Homo sapiens: one gene and its partner. The protein of the gene in region 1 interacts with the protein of each later gene in a pairwise test. Each region holds a gene or a part of one and is shown in the gene's direction. Other genes may lie near its edges.

Region 1 (6,267 bases):
AACAGAGAGAGAGAGAAAGAAGGGGGTCAAACTTGCCCTTTTATATTAATAACAACCCTACTCTACTTTCACCATATCAGCATTAATGCATTCATGAGGGTGGAGGCCTAATCACCTCTTAAATGTCCCACCTCTTAATAATGTTACAATAGCAATTAAATTTCAAAATGGGTTGTAGAGGAGGCAAACATTCAAACCATAGCACTGGCACAGCACATAGTATGTGCTCAATAAATGGTAGCAGTTACACGAATACATTACGAATTTTTTTTCTTCACACAGGCACTGCCTGTTGTGTAATTGAAGCTGTAACCCAGGGACAGGAAAATAGGCAGAAGTCCCTTGAGCCACAGCATGGGGCTACAGAAATGGCTGGGTGCCAGCCCAGGGAAACAGAACTCATCAAGGATCTAGTCTCTCGACTCCATTCTCAATAAACAGGTTTGCAGAATATGGCTGCATCCTAGAGATCAGAAATGTTCAATTCTTTGCTGATGGCCGCTCAGTGGTTGACAGCATAGGCAAGAGGCGCTTCAGGGTGCTCCATCAGAGCCAGCGGGATGGCTACAACACAGCCGACATTGAATACATTGAAGACCAAAAGGTAAGGGTGGCCAGTGCCAAGAATCCCAAAGCCAGGCTATCCTTGTAACTTGATACACAAAGATAGTTGTGAAAGGATTTCTCAGAACCCTTGAGGGCCTTGGGATTTCACACCAAATTGCTGCAGCAACATTGAATGCTGCTGGATTGCTGTCCAGTTGCACTATGGCAGTGAGGGCGCCTACTGTCCTGGCTCTGCTTAGCTGCTGAGTTGCATTCATGCATAGGAAATGTTATCCTAGATCAACCCTGGGGCTCATTCAGCTTGGGAGTTAAGTCTCTGCCAAAGATTGCAAGGAATGGATCTGGGGTGGGTCTATACATATATATTTTATCTATCGATTTATGTATATTTTAAACTTTTTTCTTTTGAGACAATTATAGATCCACACATGCATTTGTATTTTAAAGTACGTAACCTGGCTAAGAGCCCTTCCCAATAATCCATCATCCCCTAAGGCAGAAAGATGACACATCTAGTTAATCCTTGGTTTTCTGAGGTAATGGGTGGAAGAAGAGGTAAATAATCCTATATTCATTTATATTTACATTTGTTACATAGTAGATTAATAAATATCTGATGACTGAGTAAATGTGTTTGACCAAGATAGTTACATGCTGAGACTGACATACTCCTGTGTCTTTTCCAGCAAGTAATGAGAAAACAGATGTAAAAATGAAAAGGGCAAAGGCATGGACCAGCATAACCTGGTTTAACCACATGCCTCCACTCAGGCCGGTTTGAATCTCTGGTTTTCTGCATGTTTTGCTGTTTCAGCTAATCTACCCAGCTGAACCTTTCTCCTTCCTCCATGGTCAGCAGTATCTACACACTGTCCAGCACTTGACTAAGGGGCATTTCACATCAAGCAAAGGAGAAAGCTGAATGGGTGAGCCTTCCCATAGGAAGGCAGGATGGATGCTCAAAGCGAATCAGGTGTCAAAAGTGACTCTGGGAATGATGGAGAGGGTACAGAATGTTTCACTTCCACTTTGATACTTTCAGGTTCAGGGAGAGGATTGTGCTGAGCTCATGGGATTACATAACTGTGTCTATCAGCAAGCATCATTGTGGTTTCATTCGCTCAAATTATCCCTAAAGAATCGGATACTCAATCACTTTGGTCCCATGCCGGAGAAAGACGCCGATCCTCAGGTATAGAAAAATGTCTATTTTTAAACGGGTTGTCCCACTAGAAGAGAGTGCCTAGTGTTTGTGATTAGATGGGTATGTGGCTGCCATTCAGCACATCGAATGCAGAGAGGAAGATGGATTTAATTTGGTGTTGTTTGGCTGCACAGTGAGCGTCATGAGTAAGACCAAAAAGATCCCAAGTTAGAATCGGGGTAACTAAAGTAAAGCAGTAGGAACTTGGATCCAAGGCAGGTTTTGAGAACTAAGTAAGATAAGAGAATGGGAACATAGATATCACCAACAGAAGAACCTTCCATGGGAGTCCAGATTCACACCATGGTAGTGTTAGGGTGACAAGTTACATGCAAAGGCCAGGACTTAAGAGAAGGGTATCCTGGGAGCTGAGACCAAAAGCTGCTGCTTTCAGGTAACTTCATAACCCTCTCCCTCATTGCTTTGGGAACTAGGGGATAGGGCCAGCTACCCTTATAAGATTACAACTGCAAGACCACAAAAACTTTTCGTGCCTCGGTCTATCTATGCTTCGCCCTGCAAGTCTAGACCCTTGCTATTGTCCTCACCAGGGCTGAACAGCTCTGTTCATCATTAAATACTGTTAGTTGAGTTATACTAGACAGTAGTTTGTTAGGTTCTACTGATCAGTGTTCTTCCTGGGGGATAGGCCTATTTGAAAGATCAAGCTGCAGATCAGAAGCTCCCTAGGAGAGTGGAGATGGTTAAGTTTCACTAAGCTTTGCTTGCCTGGAATAAATCAGGGAATACTGTCTTTCTAGGATAAGGCTGGAGATATCCTAACCACATATTTCCTCACGACCATCTCTTCCTATGCTCCAAGCTGGCTCTCCTACATTGATTCTTTACTTATGCTCATCCCCAACTCTGTCACAAAAGAAAAAATCTCAATATGCATATTCTGACCAAAAGTCTGGTCCTGCTTACCTCACTAGCAGTATGACCTTGGGAAGATTCCTTTCCCTTTCTCAACTTTTGTCCCATCTCTGACATGAGGAGGGTTCTAAAGCCCCCTCTTCCTCTTGCATTCTGAGGTTCTAAGACACCAGTCTGTTCCCTAAATGAAATGTCTTGCTTTCCTCAGACCACAAAGGTGGCTTCTTTCCCCCCCCATGCAAAGGCATCATGAGTTTTCAAGGGAGAAAGGCCAGTTAGTGCTTCCTGTGACCCAGCTCCTGGCTCTGGGCCACGATGAGTCAGGACTGCAGCATATACCTCTGAGCAAACTCACGATCAAGCTTAATGTTCCCCTTCACCTTCCGGGAAGCGTTCTCCCTTAGGCAAAAGATACAGATCAGCAATGGTAACGGGAAAACACAGATGCTACAGTGTGATTCATAAAGGCTAATGACAGAGAAAGTTGAAATCTTGGGTTTCACTTCCTTTTTTCTTAGTTCTGTTATTATGTTGCTTTGGCAGCAGCAGCACCAGCAAAAAAGAAAAACCCATACCCATCCCAGTTTGCTCCAGTCAATGCTGCATCCCCAGTGGTCCCACAAATAAGCATGTTCTGTCAGGAGGATGTTTCTTAGAAACTGCCACAAGTGTTAATACCAGCTTAAATATCTTTGTTGGTGATCCTTGGAAAGAAAGTTCAGAACATCAGTCTAATATTCAGAACTGATCATAGGAGGGAGAGCATATTGCCAGCTTCAGGGAGGGACAAAAAAGAATGCAAATGAAGTTAGAGGCACAAAGAAGCAAAGAAGGCAGTGAGATTTGGTGACGATCAGAGGAACCAATTTGGAGCCAAATAATTTCAGGTGTAGGCACTTTGACCAGAATGGTTCTCTATAGTCCTAAAACCAAACTTGTGAAAGTTGTGGGCAGAAAGCTCGTTTTAGGCTTAGAAGGAAATAAGTACCCAATGTCTAAAATATGTGCCAGGGAAGCTGCTTTGGGGAAGGATTTATGTGGAATGGGAAAGCTCTTTATTAAAAGGAAATCTAGGGGCAGAATATATTTCTTTCTTTCTTTCTTTCTTTTTTTTTTTTTTTTGAGACGGAGTCTTGCTCTGTCGCCCAGGCTGGAGTGCAGTGGCATATCTCAGCTCACTGCAAGCTCCGCCTCCCAGGTTCACGCCACTCTCCTGCCTCAGCCTCCGGAGTAGCTGGGACTACAGAAGCCCGCCACCGCGCCCGGCTAATTTTTTGTATTTTTAGTAGAGATGGGGTTTCGTCGTGTTAGCCAGGATGGTCTCGATCTCCTGACCTCGTGATCCACCCGCTGGCCTCCCAAAGTGCTGGGATTACAGGCGTGAGCCACTGTGCCCGGCCCTGGGGCAGAATATATTTCTAATGTGAATGTTTTCTAATTGGAATTTTTGCAAAGTGAGATTGTGATTCTTTGGGACTGTAAATCATAGCCTTTGGTTTCAGGGGAGAAGAGAGCTATGGCCCTGTATAGTGACATGGTATACATGGACTATTGCCTTCAGCCACATCAAGGAAATGAGGGGACTTAAAAGACATGCAAAGGTCAAGGGGTCATGGGAATCGAAGGCCTGAATGTTAAATGCATCAGTCCAAAGGACCTCAACAGAATATTAGAAGTGGAAGAGACTACATAGTAGATACCAGCTTGTAAAATCACATTGGCTAGGAGGCATGGTGTATCTGTTAGGATACTGGTTGGTTTGCTTTAACAAGAAACAAAAATGACTGGAGCTTAAACAAGATGGAGGGGCTAAGTCTTGGACAGTTAGGGCAGCTCTATTCCACAAGAGCATTCAGGCACCCAGGCTCCTTCATCACAAAACTCTACCATCCTTAAAATGTCTCCCTCATCCTCTTGATTGAGAAAGGCTGATCCTCACCACGTCCATGTTCTAGCTAGGGGAAAGGGAGAGAAAGAGGAAGGCAGAGGGCATATGCTTCTTTCCCAGAGCATGACCAAGAGGTTACACATATCACTTCCCTTTACATCTCATTAGCCAGAACTTTGTCTCATGGCCTCACCTAGCTGCAAGGGAAGCTGAGAAATGCAGTCTTTTTTCTGGGTGGCTATATGCCCTGCTAAAATAAGGGGGAAAATAGATATAGGGTCAATTAGCAATCTGCCACATGGAGTTGTTCTACCTGGGGTCTTTACCTTGAGCATTTGGAACTCTGCAGACTGATGTTCTTGGATGGGAATAGGATGACTCCATTGTGTTTCTCTGTTGCAGATGAACCCGAATGGCCCAGCCTGGTGCTGGTGGATGTTAGCAGTTCTTCCCTTGGAAAGCCGAGCTCAGCTCCCCTTCCTAGCAATGAGGTCCTTAAAGGACAGACTGAATGGTATTCGACGAGTCCTGGCCTTCATATCCCGAAACCAAAACTAGTGAGTGGATTGCCGAAGAGGAGCTCCCACCTTCCCCACTGCCGTCGGGGGGAGTCTTCTTGTAAATATATCTAATTGCAATAATATCTTAACAGAAGGGGGTGTCAAACAGAGGCATCAGCCTGCTGTTGATCACAGAGAGAAATTGAGTAGAAAGACCAAAAGAATGTGACCTATTTGAAACTTTCTGTCTTAAGATGCTTCTTGACATGCTGCATAACTACATAAACAGCAGAGGTGTTTAAGAGCCCAGAAAAACATAATTTGATTTTAACATTAAAATTTCCAAAAGTTTAAAGTGGTTTTGCTTTAATATTCTTTCTTTCATAGATCAATGACTGTGTGGTTGAAATGTGAAAACAAAGATACTAATAATGTTGCTGTATAATTTCACTGACTTGAGGTCTCATTCCAAATGGTTCAGGTTTTATAGAGCATTGTGTAAAATAATGTTCATACTTCTTTCTGTTTTAATAATTTATTTTTTGCACTACTGTATCCTTTTTTCTACATGTATGTTTGTAACTATTTAAGCGTACATTGCTGAAAAGTCCATTGCTTTATTTATTGATGTGGTTTACCATGTACCTAGGGGGAAATAACAATACTAGAAGTGTGCAGTTTTTGCTTTTATCTTTTTTTTACTACAATGACACTAGTTCTTAGACCATTTCCGTATCTATCCAAATGGATGCTTAAAAGAAGTTCAGAATGATGCTAAGATCATCTGTCTTCAGAGTCCACTTTTTTTTTTCAGTTTGAACTAAACAATATAAAATACTTAAGGGATTTGGCCTAGATTATGGTATATGCCAAGGTAAAGTAAAATAATTCATTTTCTGTGTGTAATACAGAACAAAGCTGAAAGAATTATTTTTATTATAGGCATTTACTTCAGCAATCTAATTGTACGTGTATCTAATTTTTCCCCAGTGCAGTTAGGAATCGGATTTTGGGCAGGATCATAATTAACTCTTCAGAGGAAATGGTGTTCAGTTTAGCACATCACAGTCATGCCCAACTAGCCTCCATAACCCACCTCTCCCCGGGGTTCTGAGGATCAAGACCTGGACAGAAACACTTGATAAGGACTTTTTATTATTAAAATGTAAATAAGACAAATAGAGTAGAACCCTATAAAAATCTTTTTAAAGGAACCAGATGGCCGGGCACGG
Region 2 (6,169 bases), about 36 Mb from region 1:
TGTTGGAGAAAACTGATCTGAAGGAGTTCGACTTTGATGCCCTGTTGGGTATAGATGACCTGGAAACCATGCCAGACGAGCTTCTGGCCACGTTGGATGACTCGTGTGATCTCTTTGCCCCCCTAGTCCAGGAGACTATTAAGGAGCCCCCCCAGTCCAGGAGACTATTAAGGAGCCCCCCCCAGATGGTGAACCCGATTTGCCATCTCCCAGAAAGTTTAACCCGACCAGGTTGCCCCCTTCACCTTCTTGCAACCTCTTCCCCTTTCCCCAGGGGTCCAGTCCTCCACTCCAGATTATTCCTTTAGTCTAGAGCTGGGCAGTGAAGTGGATATCTTTGAAGGAGCTAGGAAGCCAGACTCCACTGCTTACATTTCCAAGATCCCTCACTGCACAAAGGAGGAAGACGCCCCCTCAGATAATGATAGTGGCATCTGTATGAGCCCAGAGTCCTATCTGGGCTCTCCCTCTACCTCCAGGGGCTCTCCGAGTAGGAGCCCGCCATCTCCAGGTGTCCTCTGTGGCTCTGCCTGCCCCAAACCTTATGACCCTCCTGGAGAGAAGATGGTAGCAGCACAAGTAAAGGGTGAGAAACTGGATAAGAAGCTGAAAAAAAAATGGAGCAAAACCAAACAGCAGGAACTAGGTATCGCCAGAAGAAGAGGGTGGAGCAGGAGGTCCTCACTGGTGAGTGCAAAGCGGTGGAAAAGAAGAACGAGGCTCTGCAAGAGAGGGCGGATTCCCTGGCCGAGGAGATCCAGTACATGAAAGATTCGATAGAAGAGGTCTGCAAGGCAAGGGGGAAGAAAAGGGTCCTCTAGTTGAGGGTAGTCAGGAGCGTCAATGTGCTTGTACATAGGAGTCTCGCGCTGTAGCTGTGTGTTCGAATAAATTATTTTGTAGTGGAAAAAAAAAAAAAAAAGAATTAATGACTGTCCTGTTGGGTTTTGGACTTGCATGGGGCCTGTAGCCCCTTTGTTTTGGCCGATGTCCCCCTTTTGGAAAGGGAGTATTTACCCAATGCCTGTACCTCAATTTTATCTTGGAAGTAGCTAACTTGTTTTAGATTTTACAGGCTCATAGGCAGAAGGGACTTGCCTTGTCTCAGTTGAGACTTTGGACTGTGGATTTTTGAGTTAATGCTGAAATGGGTTAAGACTTGGGGGACTGTTGAGAGGAGATTATTGTATTTTGCAATGTGAGAAGTACATGAGATTTGGGAGGGGGCAGGGGTGGAATGATATGATTTGGATTTGTGTCCCCACCCAAATCTCATGTTGAATTGTAATCCCTAGTGTTGGAGGAGGGGACTGGTGGGAGGCGATTGGATCATGGGGGTCGATTTCCCCCTTGCTATTCTCGTGATGTTGAGCTCTCACAAGATGTGGTTGTTTAAAAGTGTATAGCACCTCCCCCTTCACTTTCTCTTTCTCCTTCTCTGGCCATATAAGATGTGCCTCCTTCCTCTTTGCCTTCCGCTATGATTGTAACTTTCCTGAGGCCTCCCCAGCCATGCTTCCTGTAGAGCCTGCAGAACTGTGAGTCAATTAAACCTCTTTTCTTTATAAATTACTCAGTCTTAGGTAGTCCTTTATAGCAATGCGAGAACGGATTAGTACCGTCAATATTGATGAGAATGTTGAGCTATGTGTATGTACGCTGACACATTATGGTGGAAGCGAAAATTGGCTCAAACCACTTGGGAAAACATGGCATTATCTAGTAAATTTCGAGATATGTATTGGCTGTGATACAGCAATTCCAAAAAAAAACTTGGACATGTGCTTCAAGAGACCTGTACAAGCATGTTCATAGCCAAGGGCTGGAAACTATCCAAATGCCTGCCCATCATCAGCAGAATGGATAAATTAGAGGACTATAAAACTCTGCCGTAATGTAATAGGTAGTTTCCAAGAAATCCAATCGCATACAATGTGAAAATGTGTTACTGTGGGGTTAATGAAATGAATGAGGCAAGCCCGCTGGACCATCCAAATCTGTCCTGCTCCCGGCTGGAGTTTGATGCCATCTAGTGGCAGACGTTGCTCTGGCTGAAATATTGATGGAGATTTCCGGTCCAGTGGCTGGCTGAGACTTCCAGGACAGTGGCAGTATCTCCAGGAATCTCTCAATCAGTTAGGACTTCCTTTCTTGACTTGATCTGAGGATAATAGGCCGGGAAAATAATGGGGACCCGGAGACCCTCCCTCTGTCTTCCTGCTTCCTAAGACAGGGTCACATGCACTTTACTCTCCCTTCCCTGACCTGTTGAAGGTAAGAACTTTAGCCTGCCTCTGTCTGAGAATGGGGAGACTGAGCAGAGGACGACAGGAAGGATGGCAATCACTAACCGGGTTATGTCTGATTTTCAGCTATTCCAGGTGTTAACAAGTTGTGTTCTCTGGTTTTTAAAATTCATCATTTAATGAAATATATGTAATGAAATACAGCAGTGAAAATAATAAACTGGAGGTACACGCAAGAGCTTGGGTGAATTTTTCTTTTCTGTAAGTAAAAACATTTTTAACTGATGTATGATAACTCTGCATATTTATGGGATACATGTGATATTCTGATACATGCACACGCACACACGATGTAATGATCAAGTCGGGGTATTTAGGATCTCCACCACCTCAAGCATTTATCATTTCTTTTTTTGGGGAACATTTCCTATCTTTTAGCTATTTTGAAATATACAATAAATAATTACCTATAGTCCCTCTACGGTGCTATCAAACACTAGAACTTAATCCTTCTATGCAACTATATGTTTGTCCCCATTAACCTCCCCACCCTCCCCACCTTTCCCAGCGTCTGGTAACCATCATTCTGCTCTACCTCCAAAAGATCAACGTTTTTAGTTTCCACATGAGTGCCAATATGCTTTTCCCAGGTGCAGAGGCTGCTGATTCCTGGATTTGGAAGGTGGGGGAGAGTGGTTTGGATTTCAGTACCTCCCCCTTCCTCAGGGCTAGGCCCTGTCTGGTCACCTCCTGTTGCTACAGGTGTGCCTGGCACAGACATTCAGCTCCCGGGGCCGTGCCGCCCTCACCCCTGCATGCCTCTAGAGGTACCTGTCCCGTGGATTTGACCCCCTTCCAGACACACAAATAGATCACCACTGAGCAGACACAGGGTCACCTCCCAGCTCCCTACCAGGCAAGAGCGACCAGGGCAGGGACTGATACTGCCGAACCCAGGAGCCAGGCCCGACCCAGCCTCAGGTCCAGCAGGTCCCGCCTGTCCACCTGGGCCAGGCCTAGAGCCCGGGAGCCCCTGGCTGGTGGGAGGCCACCCGCAACCCACCCCACACGCAGCTCCAGCTCCCCCACCAGGCGGGGCGACTAGGACAGGGACAGAACCCGTTGAACCCAGGAGTGAGATCCGGCCCCGGGTCCCGCTGGGCCCTCCCGTCCACCTTGGCTGGACCTGGCGCCTGGGAGACCTTGGCTGGCGCGAGGCCACGCCCACCAGACATGCAGTTCCAGCTACCCCACCAGCTGGGCGACCAGGACAGGGACGGAGGCTGCTGAGCCCAGTTAGAGGCCTGCCCCCCGGGGTCTGTCCTGGGCGCTCCCCCAAGGACGGACAGGGCAGGCAGGGTCCGGGACGATGGCCGCACAGTCCCGGCCCCGTGTTCCCAGGCCCGTCTTGCTCCTCGATGTGAGGGAGACCCGGGGGATGGGACAGGCTGGGCCCCGCAGTGCCTGACTCCCTGCAGGGCTCCCGGGACAGGGGTCCGGCGGACAGCCGGCTGCTCAGGGGTGAGGGGTCCAAGCTGGCATTGCGGCCACCTTCCGGCCCGGGCTCTCTTGGGGAGGGGCGGGGTTGGTGAGAACCGGTCACGTGCTCCGGGGCTCACTCGGGGTCTCCCAGGGCCGGAAGTAGGGCCCCTGTGCGCAGGCGCCCTGAGGATCCCGGGCTGCCCATCTCACGCCAGGGGGCGGAACTTCCTGCAGCCTCTCTGCCTCCGCATCCTCGTGGGCCCTGACCTTCTCTCTGAGAGCCGGGCAGAGGCTCCGGAGCCATGCAGGCCGAAGGCCGGGGCACAGGGGGTTCGACGGGCGATGCTGATGGCCCAGGAGGCCCTGGCATTCCTGATGGCCCAGGGGGCAATGCTGGCGGCCCAGGAGAGGCGGGTGCCACGGGCGGCAGAGGTCCCCGGGGCGCAGGGGCAGCAAGGGCCTCGGGGCCGGGAGGAGGCGCCCCGCGGGGTCCGCATGGCGGCGCGGCTTCAGGGCTGAATGGATGCTGCAGATGCGGGGCCAGGGGGCCGGAGAGCCGCCTGCTTGAGTTGTATTCTGTTCTGTTCTGTTCTGTTCTGTTCTGACAGTTCTGGTGGCGAGGTGGGGGCCGGGAGATGGGGAGGGCAGGGCCAGGTGGGGGAGGAGGCGGGGGAGATGCGAGTAAGTGGTTGGGTGGGGGTGGGGGTGGGGGTTGGGAGGTGGGGATATGAGAGGCCAGCTGCGAGGAGGGGAGGAGGTAAGGGCTGGGAGGTAGAGGGGGTGGGGGTGGGGGAGAGGGGCTGGGTGATTGGGTGAGGGGCACCGGGTCATGCGGGGAGGGGAGCAGGGGCCAGGAGATAGGGGGACCCAGGTGTAGGAGGGGATCAGGAGGTGGGGGGAAGGGGGCAAGATGGGAGCGGGTGGCGGGAGGTGGTTGGGATGGAGGGTCGAGTGATGAGGAGGGGGCCGGGTGATGCCACAGGGGGCAGGGTGGGGAGGGGTCTTGTAAGGGCATGGAGGAGTCAGCTTGGGGTGCAGCAAAGGAAAGTGGGGAACCAAGACAGCTGGGTGGGGTGTGCTACTGGGCCAGTGCCTGGGGAGACAGCCTGGGGGGGATGGGCTGGGCAATCCGGGGTAGGGGGGAGGGGTGGGGGAGTGGGGGAGGGGGAAGCTGGCCTGGGGTAAGCAGCAGGCCGGAGCCACAGGCCAAGTCCTAGGAGAGGATGCCTTAACTGGGCCCCCACCAGCTACCTCGCCATGCCTTTCGCGACACCCATGGAAGCAGAGCTGGCCCGCAGGAGCCTGGCCCAGGATGCCCCACCGCTTCCCGTGCCAGGGGTGCTTCTGAAGGAGTTCACTGTGTCCGGCAACATACTGACTATGTCAGTTCAGGACCAGGACAGGGATGGGGCCTGGGTGGGTGGCGGTCACAGCGTGGCAGGGTGGGGGCTGGGATCCGCCTACACCCCACGGTCAGGCTGCTAGAAACCTGGGAACACCCCAGCACAGGGTCTCAGAACAGAGACCTGGTACACCAGGCCCGCCGCCACCCGAGGGAGCCCAGGGAGATGGGTGCAGAGGTGTCGCCTTTAACGTGATGTTCTCTGCCCCTCACATTTAGCCGACTGACTGCTGCAGACCACCGCCAACTGCAGCTCTCCATCAGCTCCTGTCTCCAGCAGCTTTCCCTGTTGATGTGGATCACGCAGTGCTTTCTGCCCGTGTTTTTGGCTCAGCCTCCCTCAGGGCAGAGGCGCTAAGCCCAGCCTGGCGCCCCTTCCTAGGTCATGCCTCCTCCCCTAGGGAATGGTCCCAGCACGAGTGGCCAGTTCATTGTGGGGGCCTGATTGTTTGTCGCTGGAGGAGGACGGCTTACATGTTTGTTTCTGTAGAAAATAAAACTGAGCTACGATTCCGTGTCTGAGTCTCTTTTCGGCGAGCGAAGGCACCTTCGGACTTGCATGCCCTTGTCCTCGGGTTGCAGGGGAGGCTCTGGGATTCACAGATTGAAGTAGCACAAGGTAACGGGAGGCAATTTGGGAAATGGGGGAAAATGAAAAGCCACTGGGTCCCGCCATTCAGCATTAACTACTGTGGACATTTTAGAATATTTTCCTCAATATACTTGCATTTATATGTTAAATATATGACAGTAGCATATATAATGTTTTTCCAGGTCAGCATTAAATTTTTTCCCAAATTGTTTTCATTGAACATATGAGCTTTTTTACTTGGGAAAAATTCTTTGAAAACGTACTTGAATAGATGCATAGAACCAGCATTATCATATCACTGTTAAGCATGTGATATGGGTTGGGCATGGTGGCCCACACCTGTATTTCCAGCGCTGTGGGAGGCTTGAAGCGGGAGGATGGCTTGAGACCTGCAGTTGGAGGCCACCCTGGGCAATGTAGCGAGATTCTGTCTGTAGAAAAATCATT

The links. The genes of interacting proteins can lie anywhere in the genome.
Region 2: the proteins of LONRF3 (region 1) and CTAG1B interact in binary tests that used the Homo sapiens proteins (3 or more experiments, as listed by UniProt).

The regions. Positions count from the first base shown.
Region 1 is NC_000023.11:119,012,598-119,018,864, forward strand, and holds the end of LONRF3 (LON peptidase N-terminal domain and RING finger protein 3), read left to right. Parts: intron 1-282; coding exon of another isoform or gene 283-304; exon of another isoform or gene 305-441; coding exon 442-604; intron 605-1,609; coding exon 1,610-1,759; intron 1,760-4,937; coding exon 4,938-5,093; 3' UTR 5,094-5,758; downstream 5,759-6,267.
Region 2 is NC_000023.11:154,617,080-154,623,248, reverse strand, and holds CTAG1B (cancer/testis antigen 1), read left to right. Parts: upstream 1-3,966; 5' UTR 3,967-4,030; coding exon 4,031-4,299; intron 4,300-4,975; coding exon 4,976-5,110; intron 5,111-5,349; coding exon 5,350-5,488; 3' UTR 5,489-5,640; downstream 5,641-6,169.